Regions from separate parts of the Homo sapiens genome. Here all the other regions are linked to region 1. The links come from fine-mapping of genetic effects on gene expression. A gene starts in region 1. Each other region holds a variant in brackets. All regions are shown on one strand. Distances are between the middles of the regions. Region 1 holds the start of B3GALT2 (beta-1,3-galactosyltransferase 2). Region 2 has its middle 130 kb from the start of LINC01031. Region 3 overlaps CDC73 (cell division cycle 73).

Region 1 (6,716 bases):
TATTTCTAAAATGTAAAAAAATTAAGCATTTTGAAAGATGTGAACAATTTTTTTAAGTTTGGAATTTTAAAAGCAAATCATCTAGTATGCTATTTGTTAGAATTTGTTTATATGAATTTAAACTCAGCATTAGTGTAATGAAAACCAAGGCTATTCACTGTACCAACAAAACATAGTTCTGCTGTAAGCTAAGCTGAAAATAATAGAGCTGAGCATTCTGATTTAGAAACTCAGTGTTTTCCTTCTTGTACTTTTAAATAGCTGGCCATTCTTTTTAGACCAGGGAACTATTTTTAAGCTTTTATTTCCAAATGACATATTTGGTAAATAATAATGACTCTCCGCTCCACTTCATAAGGATATCAGTAGATATAAGGGTTATGTATGTAAATTCAAAAGAAACAAAAGTTGCTTTTAAAATTTATTTGATAATCTGTTCTAAGTGTTACAAAGATAAGTTATCTGTTTTCTGCTGATATGATAATACTTGGAATCTGGTTGAAGTCCAATTATACAGATTTTTTTTAAAGTGTAAATTTGATGGTGTAAGAAGGAGTAAACAATAAGGTCAGATGTTTGAATGGATGTTTGAGTTAAAGGACTGAGTAAATAAATGATGGAAAATAATCATAATTTATGTTGCTTTTATAAGAACAATATACCTGAAGATGTCTCTAAAGTATTTTAGTATTACAGAAAACAGCAAATTATTGCATATTGTAATGTAGCATAAATACATAGTTTTGGTCCTAATATGATTTTGTAACAGTATGTGATAGAGATGCATCTTAATTTAGACTTCATGGTATTTGTATGTTTTAGATGTTAAGCTGTTGAGATATTAAATCCATATATAACTATAAATCTCCCATTGATAAATGAAGTGCATGTGTCTAGCCTTTAAAAAATTCCTTATTAAAAGATTCTCAGGTCTTATAAATTTTTTTGTTAAAAAGAATATAAAATTAAAATAACCATGCCTGCTTTTTATTAAATGATAAAATTATTCTCCAGTTATTGCCTGTTGTATTTTAATTCTTAAAAAGAGAGAGCAAAACAAGAAAGTTCAGTAGTATGCAAAATAGTTCTGCACTTTTACATTTTTAGAAGAGAAATAGCTTTGGTTTATCTCTTCTTTTTTGATATCTTCACATTATTAATGTGTATTTATAGCTTGTGGATGAAGTTCATGGGGAGAATGTTACTGTAAAATGCTGTTCAGTACACACTCAGTTTTTATCATTTGGCTTTTAAAAGTGTTGATCTCTTTAGTCTGTTGGTGATGGTTTAATAGAAAAACTTACACTTTTGTTTTGAGATGTATAGCTTATAAAACTGCTTAATTGGTGACTTCAATATTGAGAGATTAAGGTACCAAGAGGGACTTGAAATTTTTACAACCATATTTTTTAGTACTATTTATTATTAGTCTTTATTAGAATAAAAATTCATGGGTGAGAGTGATGTTGAGGTGTAATAGAGTCTGGTAAACTTGTTTAATCTTCATTTTGGAATGCAGTACTTACATATTTTTAAAAAATGTTTGCCTTTTGTGATTATTAGATAATTACTGAGTTGTGTTGTGAAATTGAGGAAAAATCAGGATCTTTGATAGATTTGTAGAATTTTAGAAATATCTTTAAGTTCTTGAGCCCTGAGTTGCTGTTCTATGATTGTTGCTAAAATAGTTTATTTGGTTTATCTGTGCCCTGCACACACATATAGTGGCGGTAGTTCATTACTGCATATTAATATAGCCTGGAAGCATAGTAGCTACATTTATATTTAATTTTTTGACCTTGTATTGCCATTTGTGGATATTTTTGTATCAAAGTATTTCCATATTATGTTTTTGAATTTCACTTCTGAAATGATAATCAGAGACAACGTTAAATTTGATCATTTGGAATCAGTCTTTTACATAAAATGTAAGCTATTTAAAATAGTTAATTTTTAAAGCCACTATTGATGTCCCTTTGTTTAAAGTTCTATTCATGGTCACTATAATAACACGAGGCTCTATTGTGGGGTTATGCATAAACTCACACTACCTTATGTGATCTTATGTTAATGCTTTCCTTTTAGTATCTTCTTGTAGCTTGGTAATATTTAAAATTTGTTGATACTCTCTTTGGTTGTGTTCATTATCTTCATTTAGGGAGATGTTGGGGAAGATTTTGTTACTAAAAGCTGTTACATATTAAGGTTTTGTTTTAAAAGGACTTTGAAAAAAAAACTCTTAAGGTTTTCCTTGCTACTATTTAATGAAATTTCACTGCATTGTGTCTTTTGATAGCCATTTTTAAGAGAGCATTTAATTTACTAGATAAGGATTCAGTTTGACCTAATTTGATAGAATATTGCTGTGTTTTTTGTAAAGGGCTACAGATTTTTTTTTAAGTTTAATTTCTTAAGGAATCCTTTAAACACATCTTCTTCTTATTTGCCTTTTCCCTCTGATGTCTATTACCCAGAATTACTCCAAGCTACATATTTAGCTGCATAAAGCAGTGACAGCTTGTCTTCTAAACAATGACAAATTTTAAAATCAGATATTAAGAAACCTTTTCATAGTTTCAAGGGCAGTGAGCTGTATGAACTTGCTTATCAGGTATTAGTGCCTCCAGGGCTATAAAAAGGTAACACATTTAAATGACTATCATACACAAGATATTGACATACCTTCCTTGGTCAGGCCATTTATGTGAAGAGGATTATGCCCACTGAAAATACTTTTGGCACGCCATCACTTCAGCAAAAAAGATGCTATCGAACATGCGCACATCCCCCAACAGTCTGCCTCCTGCGATTGCTTTTCACAGTATCCAAAGTGTCCATCTGTCTGCTTGTCTTCGAGTTACCCTCCTTGTTCATATGGGTCCTAGTCTTCTGAAATTTTCCCTTTCTTTCATTTTCTCTCTTTCGTTAAACAAAAGAGCTGTAGTTGCCCGTTCTGCTTGTAGCACTGTTGACTCTTCCCGACAGTTGATGCATTGAAGCTTTTTACATCTGCTATTTTCCTGGCTGGACAATGCAGTGCTGTGTTCTCGTCTCAGTATCCATATTTCTACTAATAACACTGAGCTGCAATGTAAAGCAGCCAGAGCTAAAATGTAGTGCTTCAGTTGTATTGGAAAAGAATAGGATTTACCTCTCTTCTTTCGTTGTTGCCTGGCAGCTGCAGGAAGGATTTTGAGCAGTTTTAATGGGGTTTTAGTCTATAATATGAAATCCACGGTTCCTCAGCTGCTGCACAGGCAGGCAGCAGTTTAAATGTGGGCTTGACAGATGCTCTCTCTGACAGAGCAGAATTTAACGTCACTGCTTGGCTGAATCCCACGTGATTGTTTGCATTCATTTTGACTAAAAACCTAAGGTAGGGAGAAGCTTAGAGATTTTGCTTTTATGTGATAAATTATATATGTTGAATGCAAGTGTAGTGATGAGTGAATAATTTGAAAATGTGATGATTATGAAATGGTTATGATTTTATTTTTTCCAGCTTACTTCCTTTTTTAACTTTATTCTTAAGTACAGGCTTTCTAAGTGTTTTCTGTGTTAGATGTTGGTTTTCATGTTTCTTACATGCTTTTGTAGGGTGTAAGCAGTATAAGCTTTTGTGTGTAAGTTGGTGTAATTTAACCCCTTCAGTGCATTCTCTTCTTGAAGTTTTTTTTCTCTGCTTTCAAATTGCTCTTGATTTTTTACTAATATGTAGTTAAGACCTATGGTTTCTATTGAAACCATGTATCTTTGTAATTTAGATCCCCCCCCCCGTTTTCTGGGGTTTGTATAAATAAGCTGTCTTGGATTACTTTACTAATGCATGATGTGATACAGCCCACTTCTTTTTTGCTCTTATGTGGTTTTTGGTGTTCTTGATGGCAGAAAACTTTATTTTAAATCACTTTTTAATGTTGTCATTTATTTTTTATTTATTTTTCCTTCCCTTTAAAATTACATGTATCGTAGAATTCAGTAAAATGATGTAATAGATATAGCACACTTGTACAGGATCTGGGGGTAATGAGATTTTACTAATTATGTTTACTTATTCTAATGTTTCAGAAAGATTTAATAACTTGCCATGAGGCAGATTTTATTAACACTACACACTCACTGAGATTTTTCTAATATGGTTAGTTTCTGGGGCTGGCACCTTCTTTTCTTACTGCAGAGCAGTAGGGAAGGTTTTTTTAAATTTTTTGTTGTAGTAAAAAGCCTTTATTATCAGTTTTTCCTCTGTGACTCTAGGGACAGTAATTCAGTCCTAGAAAGTTATAGTTTTGGAGCTTAAGCTAAAGGTTAACAGTTATATACATATTCTTCATCTCACTGCCTCCACCATTAATATATGCTATTTCAAATGAATATGAATTTGTTTTCTCTGATATTAAAAAAAATTTTGTCCACATATTTTTGAGCTTTGCTGATGAAATGTGCTTTGTAGTTTTAAGAACCCCACTGTATTAGAAATGTTAGAAGGATCGTTAAAGAAAAAAAAGAATTTTATAAATAGGAAACCTAAAGCCTAGACTGAGCTTTGACTTTTCCTAGTTAAGTTTGAAGGAGAGGACTAAAACCCAACTTCCTTGTAGTCTATATCCACCCATACTGCAATTCTCACTCACTACCGTTTTGTTTTTAAAATTAGTTTACTAGTTAACAGAGTAATGCTTAAGAACTTACTTAAAATAACTTATTTTCCAGAAGTACAGATGTGTTTTTGTAGATCAGTATTTATTTATCAGTGATTCTTTACATAGGATTTGACTATGAAGCTAGCCACAATGACCATTTATGGAGTATTTACTGAAAATCAGATTGCGTGCTAAGCTTACTTGAGCTGTTATGCAAATGGCTCTTTTCTAATAATTTTATTATTGTAATACCCACTTAAAAGATGCAGAACCAGTGCCTGGAGTTGTAAAATAGTCCAAATGTCAGATAAATACTGATAAGAATAGAGGCCAAGCTGGGAATTGAAGCAAGATTATCTAAATTCTTATCCTCTGTGTTTTTGTTTTCTTTTTAAATCTATCTAGTACTATCATTATTCTCTGTTCTTAAACTTTTTATTACATGGCACTGCTAGAGAAATTGTGGGATTTTTTTTTTTTCTGAACACTGGCGCAGCATACCCAGGAATCATTAATAGAATAATAAATGAATGTTTATATTTTCACTTTTTCAACAGGTACATATTGATTAACTACTGTGTACCAACATGTGCATTTAGGCATAGCTTATTAAGTATAGGGGATACAAAGTTGATTTAGAGACATTCCCTACCCCTTTCTCCAGGAAAGGACTAAATAATTATTATTCTTTTGCCAGTTCTTTTGATTGGATTTTTTTAATGTCTCCCTGGATTATTATAGATTTTGATTATTAAGAGAGTTATATGGGTAACGTATTCATTAGTGGGTCCCTCCAGTATCGGATTGAGTCCCTGAATTTCCAGTGGGACCCCCCCGCCCCGAACTGCTTGTTATGGGACAAGTATTTAAACAGCAAGAAACTTCCAAATATTACTAACAAAAGGTGCCTATGTACTTAACTGGAATTTACTTCATACTTTAAAAGTACAGCTGCAACCTCTTTCTTTCTGTCTGTCTGTTTTTTTTTTTTTTTGGAGACAGAGTTTTGCTCTATTGCCCAGGCTGGGGTACAGTGGCACGATCTTGTCTCACTGCAACCTCTGCTTCCCAGGTTCAAGAGATTCTCGTGCTTCAGCCTGCCGAGTACCTGGGATTACAGGCGTGTGCCACCACACCCGGCTAATTGTTGTATTTTTACTAGAAGTGAGGTTTTACTATGTTGCCCAGGCCAGTCTCAAACTCCTGACCTCAGGTGATCCACCTGCCTTGGCCTCCCAAAGTGCTAGGATTACAGACGTGAGCCACAGTGCCCAGCCAACCTGTTTGTTAAATTTAAGTTAAGCTAGTTAAGAACTTTACGTAAAGTTCAGGAAAACAGGGCAGATGTGAGATAAAAGTTCCTTTAGTAACTTTTTGTAGCAACCTACATGTTTCCAGTCAAGAGAAACTGTAAAAATCTTATGACAGGAGAGCTTGTAGAAGTTCTTCCTTTAGTCTAGTTTCTTTTAACATCTGAATTCTATGGTTAAACTAATTCAGTAAATGTGACAGGTTTCTTTTTCAGATTCAGCAAACTGGCAGCTATTTTGTTAAGTTTTATAGTTATAAATGGCTTGTAATTGTCACTTGCATAAGTCTATTTTTAATCCTACAACACATCCGTGATGGCAAAATAGGTGGCCGTTACTATGTGCATCATGGCCAGAGCTGTCCAGGCCGGTTTTAGCATTTTCCTGGGCATGTCTAGTATAGACTTCAAGGAGTCAGAATTTAAAGACAGGAATTGTAATGCCTCCTAATTGTCAGTTTTTACTGGGTATAGGAATAATTATTTTTGTATTCATGTAGTTAATGGTTTTGAATGATTATTACATGTTGAATCAGATGTAAATCTGCTGTTCAAGTGGCTACTAAATAGTAACTCATGGAGTTACATCATCTGTTTATCTATGTATGTACATTCAACAATATGTCCTTGGTAAAAAGATTAAAAGAGAAAGGTAGGGGGAGAGCACTTCAACCAGGGTGGATGATTTTCATCTAATGGGAATGAGCAAAATCCTTGAGTAACATTAGAAGGGAGACATGAATCTGGTCTTCTTATATTGGTCTCCT
Region 2 (6,716 bases), 250 kb after region 1:
TAATATTGACAGTGGGGTATTAAAGTATCCCATTACTATTGTGTGGGAGATAGAACAAGGCAAAACTCAGTCGATTTTTTTTTTTTGGCATTTCTTCTTAGATTTCTATCTCCTAACATAGGATCACTTATTTGTGAAATTATTTGTATACCTTTTTTATGGAGTGATGATGTGATACAAATTCTATCCTTAAGGATATAAGAACATCTTTTCTTTATATTAGGATTTTTCTGGACCCATGAGTTACATGCTTACTTCCCACACCCTCATATCTTGTTTAAATTTGTAGAATTAAATTCATAGGTAATTATTTCTGAAACTTCTTCCCTGTGTGAGCAATCTAAATAATTATTACAATGCCTTAAGTTGCAATCAGGAATGTTTACTTAGCACAGACTTTTTTCCCCACTACTGCACTCAAAGGATAACAGATATATGGCAAATCTAACCATATTCTTTGTCCTTTGTCCATGAAAAACACTTAATTGGTCACTGTGCACCAAACTTGACCTCAGGTTTTTCTTGACACGTATCTCAGGTAGACACTCACATTTAATTTGAGTTGATGCTTGAGGTGAAACCAAAGGCATTATTAAGTACTAATAGTGAATAGAGAAAGAAAATGATTTGGACTAACTGTGGGACAGGTCAGATTGACCTTAAAAATGAAATGTGTGATAACAAAATATCCAATAGCAAATAAAGGTCAATTTGGAACTGGGTATAACAAATGCTGTTGATGCACCTCCCATATCCTGTGGGCTCCCTGATTTTTATTATACCCATGTACAGTCCCAACCCACTGACAGATTCCCACCTTAAGCAACTGCATATTTCCCTTTCCCTGAGGGCTTTCTCATTGTTACTAGAGCTTGCTCAGCTGTAAAAGATAAACCAGAAAGTTTGAGGGAGCTAATCCCTGGGAGGCAATCCTTAATCTATAGGGGTGGCAGTGGTGGACACATGCCGTAGCCTCCCTGTCTTGTAGTGATAGGGTCCTGGGGTCCTGAAGTTTGGCTCTGGGGTTTCTCAGAGGATCTCCAGCTAGACTGAGCTCCTCTTGCTTTTTATTCATTTTTCTACCTTCCCTGTCTCACTTTCCTAACTTTCTTACCTGTCTTTCTGAGTTTACCTTCCAAATTGTCTATCTGCCTCTGAGTCCTTGTCTAAGCATCTGCTTTTAGAAGAGCCCAACTTAAGAATCAAGGTTAACAAACTAGTATAGGAATCATTAAAATTTTGATTATGTAATATGAATAAGTTCCAGAGGTCTGTTCTGCAACGTAGTACTGTTGACCAAAATATAAAGGTTGTTAAAGCAGAAATAATTTGATAAAAGTTTATTGGAAGCCAAATGTGAGGATTGGCCTGGGAAGACACACCCACAAAGTTAGGTGTGTTTCAGTCTGTTACACATTGGAAGGCTTTTATAAGAAAGTTTAGGAGAAGTGAGGGGGGCTCCTCATATCAGAGTTGTCCTTTTTCTTTGGAGGGTAGAATACATATGCAACATATAGGCTAAAATGTGTACATGCAAGACAATCATTAAAACTTCGTGATTCAGAAACAAATCAACAAAACTTCATGGTTCAGACATAAATGACTGTCCTTTTCAGTGTCAGTAGGTTACATATTAATCAGTACATCAACAATTTGAGGGACTCACAATAAGATTATTTACTTAGTGACAGGATGTAAGCCATGAATCATAAGACCTCCCCCAGCTGGTTAATTTGGAAGCCTGTCAAATGTGACCTATAGGTTATCAGTGCCTATATTTAACAATACTGTATTGTACACTTGTATTAGTCTGTTCTCATGCTGTTATAAGGACATACTCAAGACAGGGTAATTTATGAAGAAAAGTGGTTTAATGGACTCACAGTTCCACAGGGCTAGGGAGGCCCCAGGAAACTTACAATAATGGTAGAAGGGAAGCAAACACGTCCTTCTTCATATGGCAGCAGCAAGCAGAAGTGCTGAGAAAAAGTGGGAAAAGCCCCTTATAAAAATATCAGATCTCATGAGAACTCACTCACTATCACAAGAACAGCAGGAGGGTAACCACCCCCATGATTCAATTACCTCCCACTGGGTCCCTTCCAGGACACGTAGGGATTATGGGAACTATAATTCAAGATGAGAATTGGGTGGCAACACAGCCAAACCATACCTTTCCACCCCTGGTCCCTCCCAAATCTCATGTCCTCAAATTTCAAAACCAATCATGCCTTCCCACCAGTCCCCGCAAATCTTATTTCAGCATTAAATCAGAAGTCCACAGTCCAAAGTCTCATCTGAGACAAGGCAAGTCCCTTCTGCCTATGAGCCTGTAAAATCAAAACGAGTTAGTTACTTCCTAGGTACGATGGGAGTATAGGCATTGAGTAAATACAGCCATTCCAAATGGGAGAAATTGGCCAAAAAAATTGGCCAAAAAAAAGAGATGGCAGGTCCCATGCAAGTCTGAAATCCAGTGGGGCACTCAAATCTTAAAGCTCCAAAATGATCTCTTTGACTCCATGTCTCGTCCAGGTTACACTGATGCAAGAAGTGGGTTCCCATAGTCTTGGGCTGCTCGACCCTGTGGCTTTGCAGGATACAGCCCCCTTGCCAGCTGCTTTTATGGGCTGGCATTGAGTGTCTGTGGCTTTTCCAGGTGCATGGTGCTAGCTGTGGGTTGATCTAACATTCTGGGGTCTAGAGGACCATGGCCCTCTTCTCATAGCTCCACTAGGCAGTGCCCCATGTGTGGGGGCTCCCACCCCACATTTTCCTTCTGCACTGCCCTAGAAGAGGTTCTCTGTGAGGGCTCTGCCCCTGCAGCACACCTTTGTCTGGACATCCAGGTGTTTCCATACATCCTCTGAAATCTAGGCAGAGGTTCCAAAACCTCAATTCTTGTTATGTCTGTGTACCTGCAGGCCCAACACCACATGTAAGCTGCCAAGGCTTGGGGCCTGCACTCTGAAGAAATGGCCTGAGCTGTATGTTGACTCCTTTTGGTCATAGCTGGAGCGTCTGGGATGCAGGGCACCAAGTCTAAGGCTGTACATAGCACAGGGGTCCTGGACCCAGCACAGGAAACCATTTTACCCTCCTAGGCCTCTGGGCCTGTGAAGGTCTCTGACATGCCCTGTTGTGAAGGTCTCTGACATGCCCTATTGTGAAGGTCTCTGACATGCCCTGGAGACATTTTCTCCATTGTCTTGGCAATTAGCATTTGGCTCCTTGTTACTTATGCAAATTTCTGCTGCTGGCTTGAATTTCTTCTCAGACAATGGGATTTTATTTTCTACCTCATCTTCAGGCTACAAATTTTTCAAACCTTTATGCTCTGTTTCCTCTTGAATGCTCTGCCACTTAGAAATTTCTTCTGCCAGATACCCTAAAACATCTCCCTCAAGTTCAAAGTTTCAGAGACCGCTAGGGCAGGGGCAAAATCCGCCAGTCTCTTTGCATAGCAAGAGTGACCTTAACTCTAGTTCCCAAGTTCCTCATTTCCATCTGAGAGCACCTTAGCCTGGGCTTTGTTGTCCATATCACTATCAGCATTTTTGTGAAAGCCATTCAACAAGTCTCTAGAAAGTTCCAAACATTCCCACATTTTCCTATTTTCTTCTGAGCTCTCCAAACTGTTCCAGTCTCTGCCTGTTACCCAGTTCCAAAGTCACTTTTACATTTTTGGTTAGCTTCTCAGCAGTACCCCACTTCTGGTACCAATTTACTGTATTAGTCTGTTCTCATGCTGCAAGGAAGGAAAGAGATTTAATTGAAACACAGTTCCATAGGACTGGGAAAGGCCCAGGAAACTTACAATTATGGTGGAGGAGGAAGCAAACACGTTCTTCTTTACATGGTGGCAGCAAGAAGAAGTGCTGAGCAAAAGAGGGAAAAGCCCCTTAGAAAACCATCAAATCTCATGAGAACTCACTCACTATCATAAGGGTAACCTCCCCAGTGATTAAATTACCTCCCATTGGGTCCCTCTCAGGACACCTGGGGATTATGGAAACTACAAGGTGAGATTTGGGTGGG[G/C]ACACAGCCAAACCATATCAACAGTTAAACATTTTGTTAAGAGGGTAGATATCATGTTGTGTTTTTTACCATAAAATAAAACGTAACAAACAAACAAACACCTACAAGGTGGCATGAGGAAACTTTTGGGGGTGATGAACATGTTTATTACTTTGATTGTGGTGATGGTCTCACATACGTATGCATGTGTCCAAACCCATCAGATTGTATTCATTAAATATGTACAATTATTTGTATATCAATTATACCTCAATAAAGACGTTAAAAAGAAAACTCTTATCAATATCACTTTTAATATCTACATGGAAGCCATTAATGTTATTGTTCAGCTTTTAGAGTTGGAGGCCCCAGTGGTAGACAATTACTCATTTCCTCTCCCTGAAAGATTATACAGCCCTACTCTGTTGAGTTCAGGAGTGGCCATGTGACAACTCATGATTTTCTGTATTATTTTTTTCCTCTGGTTAAGGCAGGCAAAGTTCCAAGTAAAGCTACACTGTCAGCCTGAGCTCTGGAGTGAAGATGATAGACCTGGAGCAGAGTCTTAGTTGAACTATAATATACATGTATTAAGAATAAGAATATGTGTATTAAGTGAATAAGAAATAAACTTTTATTCCTTGTAAATTACTGAGACTTTGGAGTAATTTGTTGCCACAGCATAACTTAGGCTAAATTGACTAATATGGAATCTTTAAATATAATTTAGTACAGTGGTCTCATCTTGATTAATCATAAGATTAATTAGGGAGATTTACTAGGGAGATTTTTACATGTATAGATTTAAAATTCTGATACTAATTCAGTAGGTTTGGAGTGGAATGCAGGAATCTGCATTTTAACTGTTTGAAACCCAATCACTTTGCTTATTTTAAAGGTGAAAAGAGATTGACAATTTGAAAAGTTTTCCATTCTTTTAATTAATTTATTTAAAAAAAACACATTGTCATCTAGATGAGAGTTTGAATTAATTATAAAAATGTTTTCTCCTGAAGAACAGAAAGGTAAGCTCAATTGTACACCTGAATAGGGGAAGTTCTGAATTAGCATTATCAAAACTAATACAGTTTAATTGTATGTCATATATATAGGCCACCTGGGTTCAAATCTAATCAAAAATTATGAATGCATCATATTACTAAGGCCATTAGTAGGCCAGAAAGACAAAGAGTAGTAAGGCTTTAATAACAGAAGGTAAATTTGTTGCACACATGCACTCAGAAAAATAGTGCCCTTGCTATTAAGAGAGTATGTGTCTAGAAGGAGAACTCACTGTGGAGACCAGAGATCAAATTAAAGGTGGTTCAAGGTCAGCTGATGGAATTTTCTAGCATCACACTTGACAGCTCTATGCCATTCATTCGATTAGGTCACTGTATATGTTTACATTTTAGAAATTACTTATTCAATTTAATTTTGACTTTTTACTTTGTTGTCTCCAGCCTGAAGAAGACATTTTAATAGATGCAGCTGATGTCCTAAGTTCCCCCAAGGAGGAGAGAGTAGAGGCAAAAGATTGGCCCACATGTAAGTTAATATAAGGCAGAATTTGATAATTATAATAAGAAAGGAACTCCTCCTGATATGGATTGGATCTGTGTCCCCATCCAAATTTCATGTTGTATTATAATCCCCAATATTGGAGGTGGGGCCTGGTTGGAGGTGATTTGTTCATGGGGGTGAATTTCTCATGAATGGTTTAGTACCATCCCCTTGGTGCTGTCCTCATGATAGTGAGTGAGATCTGGTCATTTAAAAGTGTGTGTTACCTCTCCTCTCCCTCTCTTGCTTCTGCTCTGGCCATGTGATGTGTCTGCTCCCCATTTGTCTTTCACCATGATTGTAAATTTCCTGAGGTTTCCCCAGAAGCTGAACTGATGCCAGCGTCATGCTTCCTGTACAGCCTGCAGAACCACAAGCCAATTAAACCTCATTTCTTTATAAATTGCCCAGTCTCAGGTATTTCTGTTTAGCAATGCAAGAATGGCCTAACACCCCCCAAACTGACTTAGATTCTTTGCTGATCTATTTCTATAAGACAACTTCTGTTTGCAGGGGCATTTGCATATTGTTCAACTTAGGTTCCATAGTCAAGGATACTGCTACATATGTTCCACAAGAATCATAGCTGCATGAACTGCTGCAAAGGATGAGTTACATTTCCAGCTTTGGCTTCCTCACCACCATTTAACCCATTGCAATCTGGCAATTGATGGTGCTGTGTTTCTCAAACTGACTCCTCCAAAGATCACCAAGAACTTACCCCATTCATTATCTCTCTAGATTTTGATATTATTGATAAATCTTTTTTATTAAATACCCTGAGGCAGTCTTCTTTGGGTTAAATCCGGCCGGTGTTCTATAACCTTCTTGTGCTTGAATGTTGATGTGTTGCTCCAGGTTTGGGAAATTTTCTAATATTATCCCTTTGATTAAACTTTCTACGTCTTTCTCTCTACCTTCTCTTTAAGGCCAATAACTCTTAGATTTGTCCTTTTGGGGCTATCTTCTAGATCTTGTAGTTGTGCTTTGTTGTTTCTTATTCTTTTTTCTTTTGTTTCCTCTCACAGTGTATTTTCAAATAGCCTGTCTTCAAGCTCACTAATTTTCCTTTACCAAGTGAACTACTTGACTTGATCAATTCTGTTGTTAAGAGACTGATGCGTTCTTCAGCATGT
Region 3 (6,716 bases), 54 kb after region 1:
GTCAGGGCTGCGGCTGCTGTGACTCTTTACGGCATCCTCCTCGACGTCTGTGAGTGGCCCAGTCCCCTAGCTGCACGTCCAGGAAAAAACCTGTGTCTGCGTACATTTTCCTTCTGTCGTTCGGCCAGGATCTGCAGGTTGGGCCCGGCAACTGACATTATGATAGCTTTTTATGTTATTTCTGAAACTTGAGTGATACACAGAGTTGGTAAATGGGAAGTTAAATAAAAAGGGAATGAGAATTTTAATGAAAGTAAAATGTCAACGAGAATTCTTTTTTACCTACTTGCTTGCCTTGTTGAATAATGTTTCAACAAAAAATGATTAGGATGTCTTTAAGATATAAATGTTGTATGAAATTCATTAAGAATATAAAGTTTTAATTTTTGTTCAAATTTAGTCTTCTGAAATTTAGATAAGAATTTAGAGAATTTTAACAATCATCAGTGATTTACTTTCATGAACTGTTCTTTCTCTTTCACCTGTTCCTTCTATACTGACTCCTTTTTCTCAGCGTTTAAGAATACTCTTTCCCCTTCCTTCTTAAACAACAAAACAAAACCCTTACCGTTGACCTCACCCTTTCCCCTAGCTTCTTCTTTTTCCTTTTATAGCTGCACTTTGGAAAGAATTGTCTCTACCAACTCATTTTCTGTTCATATCCCCTGTAGTCTGGCTCTTGCTCTGTACTAAAGCTGTTTTCACTGAAGTCACCAGTGACTCAAATATTGGATACTGTTAACTTACCAGAATTTGATTCTGTTGACTCCTTTACTCCTTTTTAAGTTACTTTCCAAGTACCTGTTACACTTTGTCTCAGATTTTCTTGCTACTTTTCCTCTGGTTATCAACTGGAATGGACCCTTCAATATCATGCAGTTGAAAACTCCCATATAACTTTTGACTTATCCCAAACATACATACTAATAGCCTACTGTTGACTGGATGCCTTAACTGATAACATAAACAGTCGATTAACAAATATTTTACATGTTAGCATTGTATACTGTATTCTTATGATAAAGTAAGTAGAGAAAAAGAAAACGTTAAGAAAATCGTAAGAAAGAGAAAATACATTTACTGTTCATTAAGTGGGAGTGGGTTATCATAAAGGTCTTCATCTTCATTGTCTTCACATTGAGTAGGTTGAGGAGGAGGAAGGGTTAGTCTTGCTGTCCCAGGTGGCAGAGGCGGAAGAAAATCCATGTATAAATGAACCCACTCAATTGGAACTTGTATTGTTCAAGGATCAAATGTATATGGTTATGTCCCTATTTCTCTTCTCCCATAATTTTAAATACCCTCTCAAGAAGATCTCATAGCTTTCAATTACCATTTATATTCCCTCATTCTAAAAATTATGTCTTTAGCTCAATATTCTGGACCTATATACCTCACTCACTATGAGATAACTTCTCTGTGATATCTCATTGGTACATCAAACTCAACCTTTTCCAAATGGAATTGATGGTTTTACTCTCTTCCTTATTCCTCAAACTATTTCTTATTATCTGTTAGTCCTTTTCAGTAATTTGCCTAAGCCAGAAACTTGGGAGTATATTATCTTAGCTCTTGGTTGATCTTTCTGCTTTCACTCTTCTGGCTTCCAGTTGTTTTCTCCATCAGATTACACTGTACAGCATTGGGGGAAAACTGAGGGTATTTGGGAGCATCTCTGTGGGCCTTGATAGAAAATTATATTATATTTTGTTAATGTTGCATAATTATAATGAAATACATCGTTTGAGAGAAGATTAAATACTGATTTGCATAAAATTGCCAAATAAAATCTTTACAAATTTAGAATAAGTTTAAGCTGATATCTGGATATATTTTAGATATGTTATACTTGACGTGGCTATATTTATTTGTTGGTTGACATTTAAAATTTTTTTTTGTTGATACATAATATTTGTACATATTTATGGTGTACATGTGATATTTTGTTACATGGATAGAATGTGTAATGATCAAGTCAGTATTTAGGGTATGTATCACCTTGAGTGTTTATTATTTCTGTGTTTTGGGAACATTTCAAGTCATCTCTTCTAGCTGTTTAGAAATATATAATACATTATTGTTAAGTATAGCCTCCTACTCTGCTTTTGAACATTAGAATTTATTCCTTTGTGCAGCTGTTCACCATGGCATATGTTTAACTGTGTAACAGTCCTGCACATGTACCCCAGAACTTAAAAGTTAGAAATTAAAAAAAGAATTTATTTCTTCTACCTGTATGTTTGTACACATTAATCAACCACCTTTCATCCCTCTCCTTCCCTCCTGCCACACACATACACACACCCTTCCAACCCTCTAGTATCTTATCATTTTACTGTCTACCTCCATGAGATCAACTTTTAACGTTCCCACATAAAAGTGAGAACATAGGAAAATTTGTCTTTCTGTGCCTGGTTTCTTTCACTTAATAGAATGACCTTCCAGTTCTGTCCATGTCGCCTTGCCACAGATGACAGGATTTCATTCTTTTTTATGGCCACACAGTATTTCAGTGTGTATATATACTACATTTTCTTTATTCATCTGTTGATGGATTTAGGTTGATTCCAGATCTTGACTGTTGTGAATAGTGCTACAGTAAACAAGGGGTGCAAGTATCCCTTTGATAAACTGATTTTCTTTCCTTTTGAAAAATACCCAGTAGTAGGACTGCTGGATCATCCAGTAGTTCTGTTTTTAGTTTTGAGAAATCTTCATACTGTTTGCCATAGTGGCTCTACTAACTTATATTTCCACCAACAGTGTAGGAGTTCCCTTTTCTCTGCATCCTTGCCAGCATCTGTTACTCTGTTTTTAGTAATAACCCTTCTAATTGGGGTAAGATGATATTTCATCGTGGTTTTGATCTGCACTTCCCTGATGGTTAGTGATGTTGAACATTTTTTCATATATTTGTTTGCCATTTATTTGTATGTTACCTTTTGAGAAATTTCTGTTCATGTCCTTTGCCCACTTTTTAATGGGATTTTTTTTTAATTGTTGAGTTTCTTGCATATTAGTCCCTTGTTGGAAGAATAGTTTGCAGATATTTTCTCCCATTCAACAGGTTGTTCTTCACATTGTTTATTGTTTCCATTGCTGTACAGAAACTTTTTACTTTAATATAATCCCATCTATTTTTGTTGCCTGTGCTTTTGAGGTCTTAGCCATAAAGTCCTTGCCTCGACCAGTGTCCTGAAGCAGTTCTCCAGTGTTTTTCTGTGTTCTCTTGTATTCCACTCAGTTTCTGTGACATCATTATTTTGAATTCTTTTTCTGATATTTCCTAAGTTTATTTTTCATTGGGATCTGTAGCTGGAGAATTATTCTGTTTTTCTTTTTTTTGGAGGTATCATAATTTCTTACTTTTTCTGTTTCTTGTGTCCTATGTTGATATCTGCACATCTGGTATAAACATTGCTTCTTCTAGTTTTTTGAATTTGCTTTTTTAGGGGAGGACTTTTCCCCGAAGATGTACCTATGATTTTGATTGGGTGGGGCACTTTGGCTTTGGTTCTTCATACTGGCTGTGTAATTTCTAACCTATAAACAGCGTCAGTGGTGTCT[G/A]TGGTTTCCTCAGTGGCTTAAGGTTTGCTTGTTAGTGGAGGGTGTGGTGAAGTTTTGCTGGGGTCAGTGACATCAGGCAGGCTATTCCTTGGGCCCCAGTGGTGGCAGCAGCAGGCTGAGCCTGCCTGTTTTTGAGTCCCAAGGCCACGTATGCTGGCACCTGTGCTAGTAAGTCCAGACATCATCTTGGGTGCCAGCAGTGGCAGTGGTGAGCCTGGAGGGTGAGCAGGTCAAGTTTCTGGGCAGTGGGCAATGGCAGTAGCAGTGAAGGGGCAACCTCTGGCTCCCCAGAGGTCCACACTGTTACCAATTGTGGCTTTGATGGGCTGGACAGGACAGTGCGCAGGCCCACAGGGGGTGTGTGCGGGTGGGTAACAGTTGTGGTGGTAGTGGCAGGTTGGTTGGGCGTGTCTTCTGCCCCTGGGAAAAGTGCTCAGGTGCCAACAGTGGAGGATGTTGCAGGGCCACCCTCAGGCCCCAAAATGTGTGCTCAGGCACTGCTAGGGCGGCAGAAGGGGAGGACAGAGCCCAGCCAAGTTGGCCTGTCCTCAGGCCTCCAGGTCGCAGGCAGGGGTGGGGTGTTCTTCAGGTCCTTGGCAGTGTGCTACCAGCACTTGGGTCCTGCTGCTGGGGAGAGCAGCGTTGTTTTCAGTGGCAACGGCCAGTAAGCAGGCATCTGGGGCATGTGAGCTTCCGCCAGTTGGTGGCTGTGATTGGGAGAATCTGTCCTCAGGGTGCTTTTAAATACGTGACTGTTGGAGTTGTGGGGTCACTGCCAGTGGCTTGCACTTAGATATCATCATTGTCTGCAGGTTTGCAGGGGTTGGGGGGCTGTCTTCAGGTGCTTCCCCCACCCCGACTTAGGGTGTAAGGACTCTTGGGCCCCAGGGTAGGATGCAGTCTGGTGGGGGCCGAGCCCTCAAAATGGCGCTGTGCTGCATGCAGCTGCTTAGGGCATGTGTAGGACCCAAGCATGAACCTCCTATCTGGAGCATCTTGTGGTCTCTAGGCAGCTTTCTGTGTTGGTGTCAGGACCCCTGAGGGTCATGTGGCTCTCCCCTGGCTAGGATTGCAGGAGTCTGAGGTGGGAATGTGGACCATTAGGGGTCTCTCACCCTTATCTCACTGGTGAGCCCATCCTGGCTTCCCTTCTCCTTCCTTGCCTTAGGTGTTTCTGCTCACTTTATCTGTTGAATTCCAGTGCACTCTCTTAGATCATCTATTCAAAGTGTGATTATCTACTCACTGTTTTGGTTCTTTTTGTTTGTTGACCCTCCTGGTAACTTACAGAAGGTGGTTCTTCTTTTTGGAGGAGGCAGGTGCCAGATGCCTCTAGTTAGCTATCTTGAAGCCCCTCTCAAGATATTTTTAATGATAAATGTCTTCAAATTATTGCTAGCTACCATTGAAAAAATATTTTTATTTAATAATCTTCTGTATTATCCCTTTATCATTTGTCATGCGATCAGTATATCTAAATATTAAAAGGGCACCTCTTTGATCTCTTTTGCTTTGTTGCTTTCCCCAAAAAATGTTGGCAGCATTCATGAAGTTTGCAAAAACAAGCAATTCTGAGTTGTGTGAAATATTTTGCAGTTGTAATTCATTGTGCTGCGGTAAAACTGGCTTCTTACAAAAGAACTTTATTTCTTTTTCTTCTTCTTCTTCTTCTTTTTTTTTTTTTTGGAGATGGAGTCTTGCTCTGTTGCCCAGGCTGGAGTGCAGTGGTGCAATCTTGGCTCCCTGCAACCCCCAGGTTCAAGCAGTTCCCCTGCCTCAGCCTCCTGAGTAGCTGGGATTACAGGTGCACGCCACCATGCCTGGCTAATTTTTCTATTTGTAGTAGAGACGGGGTTTCATCATGTTGGTCTGGTCTCAAACTCCTGACCTCAGGATCCGCTCTCCTTGGCCTCCCAAAGTGCTGGGATTACAGGCGTGAGCCACCGTGCCCAGCTTACTTCTTGTTTTTAACTTCCAGAGGCTTAAAAACTTTTAATACTTTTTCTGAATAGGAAAGATTTTTTTTAATGATAATATGTTGGTGTAAGTTTGTTTCGCATCATTGCTTCATGCGAATAAAGTATGAGTGAAACTTTATATGTTTTTAAAAATTAGTGACTTACACTTTTTGGACTCTAGTATCCTAGCTTTAAATTTAAAAGTTGTCTATTCTGGTGGAAAAATAAATATCAATAAAGATGAAATCTGTTGAAATTATTAAAGAAGACTGTAGGCCATTATGGCTTCAGTTTGATCATTTTAAAAAATGTAACTTAGATGCATTCTGAAGAATGATTAGCAAATAGTTGAACAAGTTAGAAAAGCAACACCTAAGCAGAATGGAAATGATTAAAATGTTGATTTACACTGAATGCATGAGTTTTAAATTTTTTTTAATTGACAAATTTATTTTACACATGAATACTACTTTGAAAGTAAGTTTCTTGAATGTTATTACATGTAGCCCCTTTAATGAATTTGATTAAATTCAAAATGAATAATTTATGTCTGATGAAGAGACTTTTATTTATAAAAGCAAATAAATTAGAAATAAGTTTATTTTTCTGGGCACAAATTATTCATTTTAAATGTTTATTAAGAATTGAATCTTGATTAGTTGTTAACATCAAAAGCCAATATGCTAGCAAGCAATATGAAACAAGCAATCCATAAAATAGCTATCAGAAAAAACTTTAAAAGTCAATTGTTTTCTCTTTAAAACCTCTTATACCAGGTTGATACTGATCATAATCATATGCTAGTGAAAAAGTAAAAAATTGGGGGGAAAAAGCTTAACATTTGTACATGCACATGCAAAACAAAAGCTCCCTTGATAATAAAGGGATTGCAGATATAATGATAAACTAGCTGGGATGATTCAACTTGATTATTAAGGAGAGAAAAAGATTGTAAATCATTATTTTATAACCTACCTGTTTTTAGTACAACTAGTTGGGAAATTTTGCCCTAGATTATATCACCTGCCGAACAATCCAGAGTTGTCTTTTAAAAATGGCAATCATATAATTTCACCTTCTTCTTGTAAACTTTCCAGTGGCTTACTATCACATGTGGAATAAAAATCAGATTTTTTACACTGTAGCTGAGAATGTATATATAGGCTATTGCCTACAAAGAAAGTTAAACTG

The links. PIP is the estimated chance that this variant, and not a neighbour inherited with it, causes the effect.
Region 2: its variant is fine-mapped to the expression of B3GALT2 in whole blood (TOPMed, PIP 0.96).
Region 3: its variant is fine-mapped to the expression of B3GALT2 in whole blood (TOPMed, PIP above 0.99).

What each region holds. Positions count from the first base shown.
Region 1 is chr1:193,183,337-193,190,052 of GRCh38, forward strand. B3GALT2 (beta-1,3-galactosyltransferase 2) reads right to left here and starts at 3,277. Exons shown (of 2, transcript NM_003783.3): 1 at 2,683-3,277. All of the region lies in intron 10 of CDC73 (cell division cycle 73), which reads left to right.
Region 2 is chr1:193,430,084-193,436,799 of GRCh38, forward strand. No RefSeq gene overlaps it. Among named protein-coding and RNA genes, the nearest start is that of LINC01031, 130 kb to the left of the region's middle. The variant G/C (reference allele first, on the strand shown) is at 4,039.
Region 3 is chr1:193,237,718-193,244,433 of GRCh38, forward strand. The region is part of intron 15 of CDC73 (cell division cycle 73); the gene reads left to right. Among named protein-coding and RNA genes, the nearest start is that of B3GALT2, 54 kb to the left of the region's middle. The variant G/A (reference allele first, on the strand shown) is at 3,568.